Homo sapiens: one gene and its partners. The protein of the gene in region 3 interacts with the protein of the main gene of each other region in a pairwise test. Each region holds a gene or a part of one and is shown on either strand. Other genes may lie near its edges.

Region 1 (4,083 bases), on a different chromosome or scaffold from region 3:
CTCTTTGAACACGTTCCTGCCTACCCTGGGCTCTGGAGGGCTTCCGACTGTCTCTGTTATGGCGTTTGTCCCCCCGTGCCACCATGTCTGCTGGGAGGTGCCCGTTTTCCGTGCCTCTCTGCGCTGGGTCCCCCATAGACGCTGGGCTGGGGTCTGTGGAGAGGGTGGAAGTCCCCGTTCTGGACTCTAGGATCGACATCCTGCTTGAATGTTTGGAAGAGGGTCCCAGCTGAATTAAATTCAAAAAGAGGCTTTCAAGGAAGAAGGAGGTGTCATCTTTGCAAAATTAACGACCCCCAATCCACGCAACCCCTACGCCATCCCAAGGCCGGCGCCCTGCGAGGTGGCGGGAGGCCAGGGTCCCGGGTTTACCCTCGGGTGACTGCCCAACGCGGGCTGGGATACAAGCGGACCCTCGGAAGGGTTCCTTTTGCAGACTGGCGCAGTAAGGACCCCATGCCGGGAAAGGTTGGGAGGTGGGGGACCCAGGCCAAAGCGCCAAGTATCGCGAGAGACCCCCTGCCCCCGCGCAGTGCCCTAAACCCCCCTCACACCCCAGCGCCCCTGCTGGCTGCGCGCGGGGCCCGGCCGGGTGGGGCGGACAGGGAAGGGGGGGCGAGGGTGACCTCAGCGGTTCCGCCGCTCCGGGAAGTCGCTCGGCCCGCCCCCTCCGGCCCCCGCCCCGAGTTTCGCTCTCTCTGGGGCGGGGCGAGCGGCGGGCGGCGCTGGGCCAGCCAAGTTGGAGCGCGCCCCGCCCGGCGCCCTCGCCGTCCCCGCGCCCTCCCCGCCGGGGCGCGCTGCCCGCAGCTCCACGCGCGCCAGGGCCGCCCTGGGGAGGGCGCGCGCGCGAGCGGCGACCGGAGAGGAGCTCGGGGCGGCGGAGGTGAGCGCTGGGGGTGGGCTCCCGGCTCTGCCCGCCCCGCCCGCCCGCCGGCCCTCTCCCCGCTCCCCGCGGCCGCGCTGCCATAAATGGGGCCGGCGGCGGCGGCATCTGGTGGGCCGGGCGGCAGCTGGAGGCGGCGCGGAGGCGTGGGGCGGGTGGCGGCGCAGCCACCCGGGCGTCGGGGACGCCGCGAGCGGGCGGCCGCCCGGGAGTGAAGTTCAGGAGCGCCCGGGCGGGGACGCGCGCAGGTTTGCGCGGCTCCGGCTCCTGCGCCTGAGTCCCGGGACCCGCCCCCGCGGCGGAGCTGCTACTGTTTACTTTCGATCGAGTTTTTCCTGCTCGGGGCAGGTGCCCGCGGCGGCTCTGGACGGGAGGTTGCGCGCGTCACTCCCGCGCCGCTCTTTCCGCGCTGCCTGCAGCCGGGAAGGGCGCTTCGTGGGCGCCTCCAGGCGCGCTGACGGGCGTCCCGTTTGTGCCCAGGTGATGACGGCGGCGGCATGGAGTTCCCTGAGCACGGCGGACGGCTGCTGGGCCGCCTGAGACAGCAGCGCGAGCTGGGCTTCCTATGCGACTGCACCGTGCTGGTGGGCGACGCGCGCTTCCCGGCCCACCGTGCCGTGCTGGCCGCGTGCAGCGTCTACTTCCATCTCTTCTACAGGGACCGGCCCGCGGGCAGTCGCGACACGGTGCGGCTCAACGGCGACATCGTCACGGCGCCCGCCTTCGGCCGCCTACTGGACTTCATGTACGAGGGCCGCCTGGACCTGCGCAGCCTGCCTGTGGAGGACGTCCTGGCAGCCGCCAGCTACCTGCACATGTATGACATCGTCAAGGTCTGCAAGGGCAGGCTCCAGGAGAAGGATCGAAGTCTGGACCCGGGGAACCCTGCCCCTGGGGCAGAACCTGCTCAGCCACCGTGCCCCTGGCCTGTCTGGACCGCGGACCTCTGCCCAGCTGCCCGAAAGGCCAAGCTCCCCCCGTTTGGGGTCAAGGCTGCCCTCCCTCCTCGAGCATCTGGGCCTCCTCCCTGCCAGGTCCCAGAAGAGTCAGACCAGGCCCTGGACCTGTCGTTGAAGTCTGGCCCAAGGCAGGAGCGGGTCCACCCACCGTGCGTCCTCCAGACACCCCTCTGCAGCCAGAGGCAGCCAGGGGCCCAGCCACTGGTGAAGGACGAACGGGACTCACTGTCCGAACAGGAGGAGAGCAGCAGCTCTAGGAGCCCCCACAGTCCCCCGAAGCCACCTCCTGTTCCTGCAGCCAAGGGCCTGGTGGTGGGCTTGCAGCCGCTGCCCCTCAGCGGAGAGGGCAGCCGGGAGCTGGAGCTTGGTGCAGGGCGACTGGCGAGTGAGGACGAGCTGGGGCCTGGTGGGCCCCTCTGCATCTGCCCGTTGTGCAGCAAGCTGTTTCCCAGCTCCCACGTGCTGCAGCTGCACCTCAGTGCCCACTTCCGTGAGCGAGACAGCACCCGGGCCCGGCTCTCACCCGACGGCGTGGCACCCACCTGCCCGCTCTGTGGGAAGACCTTCTCGTGCACATACACACTGAAGAGGCACGAGCGGACACACTCGGGTGAGAAGCCCTATACGTGTGTGCAGTGTGGCAAAAGTTTTCAGTACTCCCACAACCTGAGCCGGCACACCGTAGTGCACACTCGAGAGAAGCCGCATGCCTGCCGGTGGTGTGAGCGCCGTTTCACGCAGTCCGGGGACCTCTACCGCCACGTCCGCAAGTTTCACTGTGGCCTCGTCAAGTCCCTTCTGGTGTGATGCATCCCTGTGGGTCCTGAGGGTGGGGTGGAAGGGAAGGGATGGGCCCTCCCAGGTGGGACACAGCATGGGGTGTGAAGCCTGACCAGGTGGAGGTCCCTGCTTGGGCCAGATGGCTCCACCCTCCTGGCAGAGAGAATGCTGCCTCTTCCTGGAACTTGGCCTCAGACTCGGTAACTTGGGCAGCCTTCCTCCCACCTTGCCTCTCCTTTCCCCTCACTCTCCAACTCATTCCGGCCCCCAGGCTGTGCCCTGCCTAGGCTGTGACACTATCTTCCTCTCCCGTCCCCTCCAGCCAAGTTCTGAGGGGTGTCCAACCAGCACCTGGCTCTGCCCCCGTTTCTCCGTGTGAGATGGCACATCCATCTCCCGGCCCGGGACTTTCCTGACCACCTCTCTGGCAGGCTTGGGGAGGTCTTCATGAGCCTGGCCCCACGCTAGGTGAATTATTCACATGTCAGAAAAGTTGTTGGTGTGCGTCCCAATGGGGCGCTGGGAGGGAACAGGACACTCCTGGGGAGCGGCAGCAGGAACCCCTGCCAGGAAGGCCTGGGGCACAGTGAGTGCCAGCAGGGGCCATCTGGGCACAGCTGGTGTCTCGGGGTGGGGGGGGGGGTGCAGCCCCAGCAGGGATCCTAAGGCAGCAGGAGTAGAGCCAGCTAGAAGCTGAGTGGCTGTGGCATCATTGTCACTCGGGTGGGACGTGGGTCCATGAGAGCGTGCAATTATGACCACACTGTAACTTTGAGCAGAGAAAGTGGGAATTTGGAACTGGATTCTCTTTAGAGCCAGGAAGAGCCTCCTGAGGCGGCCAGATGTCTGCTGGTGGCCGCCCAGCCACATGCTTGTCTGCCTGAGTGCAGGTCTAGGAAGCCTCTGGGCATCCCCCAGGGTGGGGTCTGGGCCGCTGAGCTGTGTGCTGCTGCTGGGCCACCGTGGGCCTTACCTTGACGGTCACTCTGCCTGCTAGGGGGTTTCCCTGGAGCTGTGGGCATTTCCGTGCACTGACTGAGCAGAGGCAAGGGCTGCCCTGTCCGCCAGGGGCAGGGTTTGCGGGCCTTCCTTTCCCCACGGCGAGGCATGGGTGAAAGTGGCCATGGCGGCAGGGTTAGGGGCAGGTGAGGAGTGGGAGTCGCAGCACCCTAGGGGCCTCCATCCGCAGCCTTGGGAGACTGACGCTCCTCGAACATGAATAGAATGTGGAGACCACAACCCCCACACATGTCGTTGGTTCAGGTCGCCCTGCTTTGCCTGCCTAATGGAGCACATCTTGCTGCCAGAACCTCACTGGCCTCTGGGGGTCGGCAGGTGCAGAGCCACCTGGACGCCTGGAGACCACCTGGGATGTTTCCTCTGTGACTGGGAATGGCCTTGACAACAGAGTCCAGCCAAGTCTACGTTATTTTCTCATCTCCTGACAACACTGGATGTCAT
Region 2 (3,500 bases), on a different chromosome or scaffold from region 3:
GTTCTTAGGAAAACAGTCCTGCTTGATTCGAGGAGACGGGGGTATTTCTTCATATACTTGGAAATGCACATGGTGGCATCTGGCCTCATTGGGCATCAGCATATCCCTGTGTTCACCTGCTCACTGCCTTCCCCCTGTAGGGTAACACGTGCCATCAGTGTCGACAAAAGACCATCGACACCAAGACAGTGTGTCGGAACCAGGGTTGCTGTGGTGTGCGAGGACAGTTCTGTGGACCATGCCTGCGGAACCGCTATGGGGAGGATGTCAGATCGGCATTGCTGGACCCGGTAGGAACAGTGTTTGCATTTGTTGTAAATTGTATTGGTGAAGGAAGCAAGCTATAAAGATGGGCCTCCTGGGTTCTCACTGGGAACTAGGGAGCTCCAGAACTCTGGTTTTTCCCTTCCATTTGTATCTTAAGGCTCCAGGGAAAATGAAAAATAGGGATTCCTTCTGGAAGGAGAGCAAGCTGACCAGTGAATAGAAGAATTAATGTTGTTAGATTTTCCATTGTCAGAGCAAAACTTGCTTACAGTCCTCTAGTTTTATGCAAGTAATCCCTGTACCTGTCCTTCAGCAAAGTGATTTCCCTCTGATTTGTTTTGTTTTTCCTGGGCCAGGCTGAGAGGGAGGTGGAGATTGCAGTATAGAGTGCTCTCTGTGTGCCTGGCACTGTGCAAGCTGTCGCTCACTCTGTTACCATAAATTTGTTTAATCCCATGAAATAGGTGTATAACCTCTCTCAGCTCCCTCGGTAAAATGAGACATAGTATCATGGTGAGTAGGCACGACCTTGAGCCTGGGGCAGTCCTGCTCCCGAGTGTGACCTCTTAGGCAGCAGTCATGGGGTAAATATATGGTCCTCAACTGACAGACAAACAAACTGCTGCTCAGGTTAGTCATTCAACAATAAGCACACATTGAAAGGGCTGAAATTCATACCTTGATATTTTGGAAACCTTGTGCTCCTAAACCAGGGCTGACATCCTGGGCCTGTGACCTGCATGCTCGCACAGGGCCCTGTGCTTGGCCAAATGCTTGTGAAAATCTCCATAATTTTTAAGCAAGGAGCCCTAAAAGGTGTCATTTTTCAGTGTTTGCATGTGACGTGGGGTGATTCAGCCTTCCTGCCTTGTGAGGAGCCCCCTGGGACGTAGACTGAAAGATGCCATGTGATTAAAGGTTGGAGGAGAGGCCAGCTGAGCCATTCTGGATCCGAATCCCAGTTCTTGCCAGACCCTGTAGATAATGAGCGAAGTGTCTGCTGTCATCTCTCTGTTAGGATTGGGTGTGTCCCCCCTGTCGTGGGATCTGCAATTGCAGCTACTGTCGGAAGCGTGACGGCCGCTGTGCCACAGGAATCCTCATTCATCTGGCCAAGTTTTATGGTTATGACAATGTTAAGGAATATCTGGAGAGGTAAGTAAGTCTCTAGCAGCTTACAAAACAGCTTGAAATCTTGAGGCTGAGCACAGGAGACCCTCTGGGCAAGTAGTTGTTGCCTTCCCGTGTGACTTACTTACTTATATAAACCACGAGTACCATCCATTCTGTATCTGTTTGCATTGGAAAAGCTCAGGCCTGATATTTTCCCTATTAGGGAATCTTCTCCTTTGCTAGATTTTTCAACTCAACTCCACGTTGCCTTTAACCAAAATTTCTCCTTGAGGTGTATGACAGAAATGGAAGGAACAAACAAACAAGGCAGGCTGAGGGGAAAGACACAGATTATGAAGAGGCAGCCATAATCCTAGTGCAGAGAGAGAGTTCAGGGCAAGAGGACAGAATGTGAGTTACAAGTTTCATTTATGTAATTAATAAACTCTGAATCGTGGTTCTGGAATGCGGGAGTGAGGCAAGTCATGCTTGGGGCGTACTACACCAGAGGGTATACGGATATTGATGCATAAATTGTCAGGATTTCGAGTGTCAGGAGATCTGGGTTCTGGCTTTGTACTCTTAGATGATTGTGGAATCTCTCAAGCCTAGAATGCCATTTGTGTATTTGTACTACTTTACCAAATACTTCTCATCTTTTTCCCAGCTTACAAAAGGAGCTGGTAGAAGACAATTAAGAGGAAAACAAACAGAACCAGCCACCTCACCATAGAGTACTCCAACAAGACATGCATACCATTGGTGCCTAAGAAAGATTTTTTTACAGTTGTGTTTTTATACAGAAATTCTTTGTAGAAATTACTATTTTTTGTTAAAGATTGTTTATATGCTTACAAAGATTTCTCAGGAAGACAGCAGAGCAGAGGAATCTATATAGATGTATGCACAGACCTGTCTGTATGCTGAACTTTGTTAAAAATATCTGCCAGTTATTAAAAAGCACAGTTTAAATGGGGTGGGGTTAAAGTTCAGGTAAGTAAGTTAGAGAGAAAACATTGTATGATCAGCTCCTGCACTTGATCTATCTATCTTTGGCTTCCCAAACAGTAACTCACTCCAGGCCAAGTGTGCCTTAGCACGAGTGACCACAGTTTAATAGACCACACACATCGTTTAACCTGCTCTTGGTCATTGGAAATTTACACTGAACAAAGTGCAATTAACTGTAGAACAGTTTTATTTTTATTAAAACTTGACTGAACAAAAGGGGACCATCAACATTGTAGACACTGGACACTGGAGGCCTTACAGAGTGCTAGCCTCTTCCTTCAGGACTCACCTGGGGCCTGCTGCTTTTATATTTTGAAAGAGTTTAAGGGCTAATAATTTAATTTGTTGTTTGTTAAAAATTAAAATCTCCGTTCTTTCCGGCTGCATTGCTTTTGCATGTTCACATATGATGTACTTTTATGATGTACTTTTTTTTTTTTGAGATGGAGTCTTGTTCTGTTGCCCAGGAGGGAGTGCAGTGGTGCAACCTCGGCTCACTGCAACCTTTGCCTCCTAGGTTCAAGTGATTCTCCTACCTCCTGAGTAACTGGGATTACAGTCGTGTGCCACCACGCTCAGCCCTGAGTTAGTTTCTAGTATTTTTTTCTGACTTTCACTCTAAGGATAGCGTTGAAAAAAGAATGCACGTGTGAGTTACTAAAAAGTTAGAATAATGTGCATGGGAACAGTGCAGCAACATGCTAGAAAATCCTCACTGCACTCCAGCAGAGGCTAGAGGAATGCCAGTGTTACCTTACGCTTCTAGAAGCAGAGCCACTCCAGCCAGAACCCATTTTGCAGTCTTCTCTTCGCTCTTCAGCCTGAAGGTCCAGATGTAGCTGGGGCCTCTCAGTTTGGTTCTATACACAGGGCACTCGTAGGTCTGTTTGGTTTCTTGTCTGTCCACGGGGGTGGCTTTTGCAAAGATGACCGGCATAGGGCATGCCAGCTCCTTGAGACGGGCTTCAACAATGGTTCCTGCTTGGGTGTCCCAGCGGGCGCCTATGGCAAAAACACAGCGGTTGCAATTGTGTGGCAGCTTGCTACTAATGATAATGATCAAGTAAGTTGTTTGATGCAATAAACATTCAACATTCTGGTTTTGTCAT
Region 3 (3,500 bases):
GATTTTGAATAGGGGTGATAGGATATTCTTGCCTTGTACGTCATCTTAGGAAAGAAGCATTCAGTCTTCTATCATTAAGTATGATGTTAGCTGTGTGTTTTTTGTAGATGCCCCTAATCTGGTTCAGGATGTTCCTTTTTATTCCTGTTTTGTTGAGGGTTTATTATTATTATTACTGTTATGAACAGATGTTGAATTTTGTCAAAAGGCTTTTCTGCATTTATTGAAGAGATAATTTTTTTTTTCTTCTTTAGTCTGTTGTTACGGTAGGTGATGTTGACTGATTTGCAAATAATGAGCCAGCCTTCCATTCCTAGAATAAGTGTCTATTGGCTGTGAAGTATTATCCTTTTTATATATTGCTGAATGCAATTTGCTATTTTTTTGTTTAGGATTTTCGTGTCTTTGTTTATGAGGGATATTGGTCTGTTCTTTTATTTTAACATCTTTATCTAGTTTTGGTGTCAGTGTAATTCTGGCCTCATAAAAAAAAGTTGACTTATTTCCTCCTTTTCTGTTTTCTGGAAGACTTGTTTAAAATTTCTATTATTTCTGTTCTAATTTTTTGATAGAATTTGACAATGAAGCTCTCTGAAATGTTATACATTGCATGACTGTTTACCTTTAAATAATAATCCGCTGCTTCAGGTATAGTGTAAGTACCTTAAAACAGTGTTTTCCCATCTATTGATCATATTTATTTCAGATTCTTTTTCTGAAATTCCTGTATTATTATTCCAGGTTATCTGTGTGTCTGCTTCTGTTGATTGTCACTTGACAATGAGCCTTTTGTTTCCTTTGCCTTCTTTTGTTTGTTTGTTTGTTTGTTTGTTTGTTTGTTTTTGAGACAGAGTCTCACTTTGTTGCCCAGGCTGGAGTGCAGTGGCGCAATCTCAGCTCACTGCAACCTCTGCTTCCTGGGTTCAAGGGATTCTCCTGCCTCAGCCTCCTGAGTACCTGGGATTACAGGCGTGCGCCACCACACCCAGCTAATTGTTATATTTTTAGTAGAGATGGGGTTTCACTATGTTGGCCAGGCTGTTCTCAAACTCCTGACCTCGTGATCCGCCCGCCTTGGCCTCCCAAAGTGCTGGGATTACAGGTGTGAGCCACTGCGCCTGGCCTCCATTGCCTCTTCATTGTAATTTTTGATTTCAGTGTTGGACATTGTGTGGAGGGCAGTAGGCAAGGTCAAAAAACTTTTTCTGTAATGGGCCAAATAAATATTTTGAGTTTTGAGAGCCACGTGTAGTCCCTGTTGCATGTTATTCTTCTGGTTTTTACTTTTAAAAAATTACCCTTAAAAAATGTAAAACCTGGCAGGCTGCAATGGTTCATGCCTCTAATTCTGGCCCTTTGGGAGACTGAGGTGGAAGGATTGCTTGAGCCCAGGGGTTTGATACCAGCCTGGGCAGTGTGGTGAGACACCGTCTCTACAAAAAAATGTGAAAAATTAACTGGGCGTGGCCACATGTTCTGTGGTCCCTCTTTCTTGGGAGGCCGAGGTGGGAGGATGGCTTGAGCCCAGGAGATTGAGACTGCAGTGAGCCATGATTGTACCAGAGTACTCCAGCCTGGGAGACAGAGCAAGACCCTGTCTCCAAAAGGAGGAGGAGGAGGGGGGGGGGAGGAGGAGGTGGTGGAGGAGGAGAGGAGGGGGGGGGAGGAGGAGGAGGAGGAGGAGGAAAGAAGAAGAAGAAGAAGAAAAAAAAAGTAAAACCATTCTTAGCTTGCAGGCTGTACAGAAACGGGTCATGGGCTACCTTTGGCCTCTGGGCCATGCGTACCCTCTCTGTAGAGGGGAATGAGGTGGGTAGATAGTGTTATATTCAGGAATGGCCACTCCTCTTTTTCCGCTGGGTTTTCATTGTTGGGGAGTTAAGGTGGGTCTGGGTTTTGTTGTTGTGTATGTACCTTCCATCCCACTGGCTTCAAATTCCTCTAACCTTTCCTTGAGCTTAGGATGAGGGCTGAGTTGCCAAAGCGTCTTCACCCATGGCTTTTGGCCTTGCCTCTGTGTCTGCCTTAGCTGCCCCTTATCTTTGGCAGGTCTCTACTAGAGAAAGTTCCCCTCCCTTCCCCCAAAGTAGGAGGACTCTAACAGGCTGGCTTAAGATGGCTCCTGGACCCTCCCTGAGGGCTAGAGCAGATTGCCTTTTATCTTCCCTGGCCACAGCAGTCTTCTGATTCTGTAGGTGAGAAGCTTCTTGTTAGGGCTTAGTGCTGTGGCAGCTCCCACTGAGAGACTGTTCAGTCTGCTCTTTCAGTCTACATCTTAAAAGGTTTTTTTTTAATTTTTTTATTTGTTAAGTAAATGTGCTAAGAAAGAGGTGCTGATTTTGAGCCTGGTTCCAGTTGCAGTACCCAGTCAAGGAGTGAATTTACGGCATCGTAAAGGCTGCCAGTAGAGAGGAATGGTAAGGAAAGTTGGCTCCACTCTGGTGATGGATTGAAGCTTCCAGTGGGTTTGTCTAGCTATTTTTTAGTGGTTGCTACAATGTATGCAAGGCTACCAGATTCTATAAGTCCTGGGGCCATTCCCATGGAAAATAAACAACGTGAATTTTATATACCCAGTGACATTGTGTAAACTCAGTGGCCCTGATAAGTGCTGTATCTGTATGTGGTCCCTGAGGGATTTGCTGCAATTGGAGTGAAAAAGAAGTAATACTTTTTAAAACAATCTTATAAGTGGACAGAATGCTACTGTCGACAAAGAGTCAAACTCTGCAAAATATTTGAAGAGATTTGTTCTGAGCCAAATATGAGTGAGGTCCTGAGAACATGTGCCCAAGGTAGTTGGGTGCGGCTTGGCTTTATACATTTTAGAGAGGTGTGAGACATCAATCAAAAACATTTAAGAAATACATTGGTTTGGTCCAGAAAAGTGGGACAAAGCTGGGGGGCGTGGGGCTTCCAGGCTATAGGTGAATTTAAACATTTTCTGATTGATAAAGACCTGGGATTGATAGAAAGGGAATGTTCAGGTTAAGGTAAAGATTGTGGACATCCAAGTTCTTTTGAAGTCTTATGGTGGCTGCCTTAGAGACAATAGATGACAGATGTTTCCTATTCAGATCTTAGTTAATCTCTTTAGGATTAGGAGGGTCTCGAAGAAAAAGATCTAGCTATGTTAGTAGAGATTCTTTACAAATGCAGATTTTCCCCCACAAAGAACAGCTTTGCAGGGCCATTTCAAAATATGGCAAAGAAACATATTTTGGGGTAAAGTATTTTTATTTTCTTTCTTGTCTCATAATGTTATGCCAGAGTCAGGTTGGAAAGTCATGATATATAGGGTTAAATAAAACCCATCTGATGAGAATTTGTGATTTGTAGGACATGACTCCCCAGACCCCTTAGATAGGAATTTGGGCAAGATAAAAAAAATCAGAGTTTAGTCCTCACTAGCAAACAGAGAAAGCCCTCATCTTTCTAGTTTAACACTTTAAAATTGTATGACTGTAATATTTGAAGATGATGGTTATTAGACTATTGAG
Region 4 (3,500 bases), on a different chromosome or scaffold from region 3:
TCATTTCACTAGCAAACCCTTAAGTGATAACCTGCAGTCTTGGATACAGACAACATTATACTCATAAGAAGGTAACAACGTTTTAAATGTCAGCTCAGATGAGTCATTCTTCAAAAAAGTCCTCGCAATTATTTTCTCAGGTAATCTGAGGCAGTAAATACTGTAAGTCAGTTCCGTGTGCATGTAAAGGCAAGACTGGATACTGTTAACTTTGTGTAACTCCAGGAGGGCACTGCCCATAACCTGACAACACCTGGGAAAACAAGAGGCACATGGGGAGCCGGGCACGGTGGCTCACGCCTGTAATCCCAGCACTTTGGGAGGCCAAGGTGGGCGGATCACAAGGTCAAGAGATCGAGATCATCCTGGCTAACACAGTGAAACCCCATCTCTACTAAAAATACAAAAAATTAGCCGGATGTGGTGGTGGGTGCCTGTAGTCCCAGCTACTCGGGAGGCTGAGGCAGGAGAATGGTGTGAACCCAGGAGGTGGAGCTTGCAGTGAGGCAAGATCGTGCCACTGCACTCCAGCCTGGGCAAGAGTGTGAGACTCCGTCTCAAAAAAAAAAAAAAAAAAAAGAGGCACATGGGGACAACAGTATGGCTGAACTAGGCCCCCACCATGGAGCGGCCTCTGATGTCACAAAGCTGCCCTCTTAGCTAACGGCACCCAGGACTGTGGTGTGATGTAGCATCCATTTCAGAGAGGGAAAAAGTGCTTTGGCTGTCCCCTGCTCTAGGCACGTAGGCCAAATGGACAGGATTGTATAAGAGAGAAAGAACTTCATGTCACGACACTGGCAGAGCTGGGTAGACTTAGAGGTGAGAATTCCAAGTCAGGCTCCTCTAACGTTTTGATACAAGGAGATACCTGTGCAGGGGTCCCAAGCACACAAAGTGTCTCCATACACAGGACCCCAAACTCCAGAATCTCCAGGAAATGAAAAACATCCTCTTTCTCCATCTTCATCTCTTAATTCTTAGATTATTAAAAAAGACAACTAGGAAGATATTAACTTTTAAAACAGACTTTTTTTTTTTTGAAACAGCAAACTAACTAGAAAGACGAACAGTGTCCCTTGAAATGCACAAGGCTTCCTCTCTCGAGGGTGAAACACTCACCTAGTGTGTCCTTCAGGTTCTTCACGAGGGAGCCCTTCTTCAGGCTGTTCTTCCGCTCCACGTAGTTGGACGGTACATAGCCCGTCCTGTTGGCCGCGTTCCTCACCCGCCACCACGTCTTGGAGTCGTCCAGCAACCACAGCCGCTCGTTCTTCTTGATGTCCAGCTCCTGGTCCTGCTGGGCGGTGTAGTCCCACTTGGCTATCACAATAACTTCTTCTGTCATCTTTCATGGAGTCCTTCTGCCAGCAAAACATTTGGAGATGCTCATTAGAGAACTACCCGGACACTTCATCCTTTGCACCAACTTGAAAAATTAGGCACTGACAGCTTTTATTACAACTCTGCAACCAGTTTTCTCCTGGGTCTTGAAATGCTCAACTTTAAAATGACCTTCTTTCAACAAGCTTTAGTATTTGGTTTAGAAACAGCAACCTTATAAAACAAATCTTATGTTACTGTTTGCTGTACATGGGGAAATCTGACCCTCTAACAAAAACAAACTTGAAAAAAATTCTAAATAACATTATAATTAAATGAGTCCATTTCATTAAGTAACACTGCCTCCTGATAACTGTTAGGTTGACACTCATTTTCTCAGGATATGCTGTGTCTTATAAACATATTTAATAAGTCAACATAACCAAACTACTCCTATAAATTAAAATTAACATTGTACTAATAACAAGGTGGTATCCTGGATTGGATCATGAAACAGAAAAAGAAAATTAATGGAAATACTGGTGAAATCAAAATAAAGTCTAAGAATAATAATAACAATAAATAATTGTCAATCTCTTAGTTTGGACAACACACCAGTAAGATGTTACTGCATTCACATAAGATGTTAACACAATGAGAAACCAGGTAAAGGGTATAAGGGAAAGTTCTGTACTATACTGGGAACTTTTTTATAAATATAAAATTATTCCCCAAAACTTTCATTCACACAAAAACCTGTGCAGAGACGTCTGTAGCAGCTTTATTCATAATTGCTCAAATTTGGAAGCAAGCAAAATGTCCTTTAGTAGGACACAGTTTATAGATACATAAACTGTGGTATATCCAGACAATGAAATATTATTCAGTACCAAAAAGAAATGAGCTATCAAGCCATGAAAAGACATAGCGGAACCTTAAACGCATATTGCTAGGTGAAAGAAGCCAATCTGAAAAGGCTACACACTGTGTGATTCTGACAGTTTATCCTTAACCAAACTTCAGCCAAATTCCTTTGAATCTTCTTCCCTTTAAGGCCTCAACTTTTGCACTTCCGTGTCCATCTCTGCATTGCCCAATTTTTGCAAGACTCTCCTGCTAAGGTGCTCTAGCTGGAATCCTCCACTCTCAACATCTGATCAGGTTCCTCATCCTCTACCATCCCCCAGGTGACAGCTGATCACCCTGTCCTGCCTTCAGAAGAATCCTGTTCGGTCAGTTTAGCCAGAATCCCCACGCTCCACCCCTGATGTTTCCTCTTAGTAATTTTCCACCCACCAACTCCCTTATTTTGCTCCTTGCCTATAAATGCCCACTCTTCCTTGTTGTCTTAATATTAGGAGTCAAACCCAATCTCTTTCTTGACTGCAAAACCCTACTGTAGTAGTCCCTCTGAATAAAATCTGCCTTACTGTTCTTCAACAAATGTCATGAATAAGTTTTTTCTTTAAAACGGTATGACATACTGGAAAAGACAAATCTATGGAGACAGTAAGAAAATAAGTGCTTGCCTGGGGCAAGAGGGAAGGGAGGGATGCAAGGGTGAAGCACAGGATTTTTAAGGCTGTGAAACTACTCTGCTCAATACTATAATGGCGGACACCTGTCATTATACATTTGTTAAAATCTATAAAATGTGCAACATCAAAAGTGAACATAACATTTTTCCAAAATGAAAAGTTTATCAAAACAACAATAAATAGATGCGTGTATTATATATCCAGTAAAGTCAATTTTGGAAGTAATAAATAGCAAAAGTGTGGCTGAATAAATAAAATAAATAATCAACTATTTTAGCAACTCTCTACTTCTTAGGTAGAAGATGAACCAATATTCTTTAAGCAGAAAAATTCAATATTCAGTCCTTAAACTAACTAGACATTTCTCCAAACTAGGGAGAAATGAATGATGAAAACACTCAGGACTAAAATCCCCTTCCTCCCTGACAGAGAAGTTCTCATTATTGTATAGGGATGACTTTAGGATTACAGGGGACCTATGCACATTGACTCCATGGAAGCATAAATACCATTTTTAAATAACATATTTTCTACTAGATGCTAAAAAAATTTTTTTATAAATAATACACGTTTCTTTCATGAATTAACTTCCAAATTTAAAGATAACAAACCTTTTGGGAAGGAGGAAAGCCTCTGCAT

The links.
Region 1: the proteins of HSF2BP (region 3) and ZBTB42 interact in binary tests that used the Homo sapiens proteins (3 or more experiments, as listed by UniProt).
Region 2: the proteins of HSF2BP (region 3) and CDCA7L interact in binary tests that used the Homo sapiens proteins (3 or more experiments, as listed by UniProt).
Region 4: the proteins of HSF2BP (region 3) and NCK2 interact in binary tests that used the Homo sapiens proteins (3 or more experiments, as listed by UniProt).

The regions. Positions count from the first base shown.
Region 1 is NC_000014.9:104,799,818-104,803,900, forward strand, and holds the start of ZBTB42 (zinc finger and BTB domain-containing protein 42), read left to right. Parts: upstream 1-1,283; 5' UTR 1,284-1,380; coding exon 1,381-2,649; 3' UTR 2,650-4,083. UniProt on the Homo sapiens protein: Transcriptional repressor. Specifically binds DNA and probably acts by recruiting chromatin remodeling multiprotein complexes.
Region 2 is NC_000007.14:21,900,900-21,904,399, reverse strand, and holds part of CDCA7L (cell division cycle-associated 7-like protein), read left to right. Parts: intron 1-140; coding exon 141-290; intron 291-1,285; coding exon 1,286-1,422; intron 1,423-2,047; coding exon 2,048-2,078; 3' UTR 2,079-3,145; coding exon of another isoform or gene 3,146-3,393; 3' UTR 3,394-3,500. Other genes in the region: DNAH11 (dynein axonemal heavy chain 11), read right to left, coding at 3,146-3,393. UniProt on the Homo sapiens protein: Plays a role in transcriptional regulation as a repressor that inhibits monoamine oxidase A (MAOA) activity and gene expression by binding to the promoter.
Region 3 is NC_000021.9:43,530,489-43,533,988, reverse strand, and holds part of HSF2BP (heat shock factor 2-binding protein), read left to right. Parts: intron 1-3,500. UniProt on the Homo sapiens protein: Meiotic recombination factor component of recombination bridges involved in meiotic double-strand break repair.
Region 4 is NC_000002.12:105,852,912-105,856,411, reverse strand, and holds part of NCK2 (cytoplasmic protein NCK2), read right to left. Parts: intron 1,365-3,500; 5' UTR 1,349-1,364; coding exon 1,123-1,348; intron 1-1,122. UniProt on the Homo sapiens protein: Adapter protein which associates with tyrosine-phosphorylated growth factor receptors or their cellular substrates. Maintains low levels of EIF2S1 phosphorylation by promoting its dephosphorylation by PP1.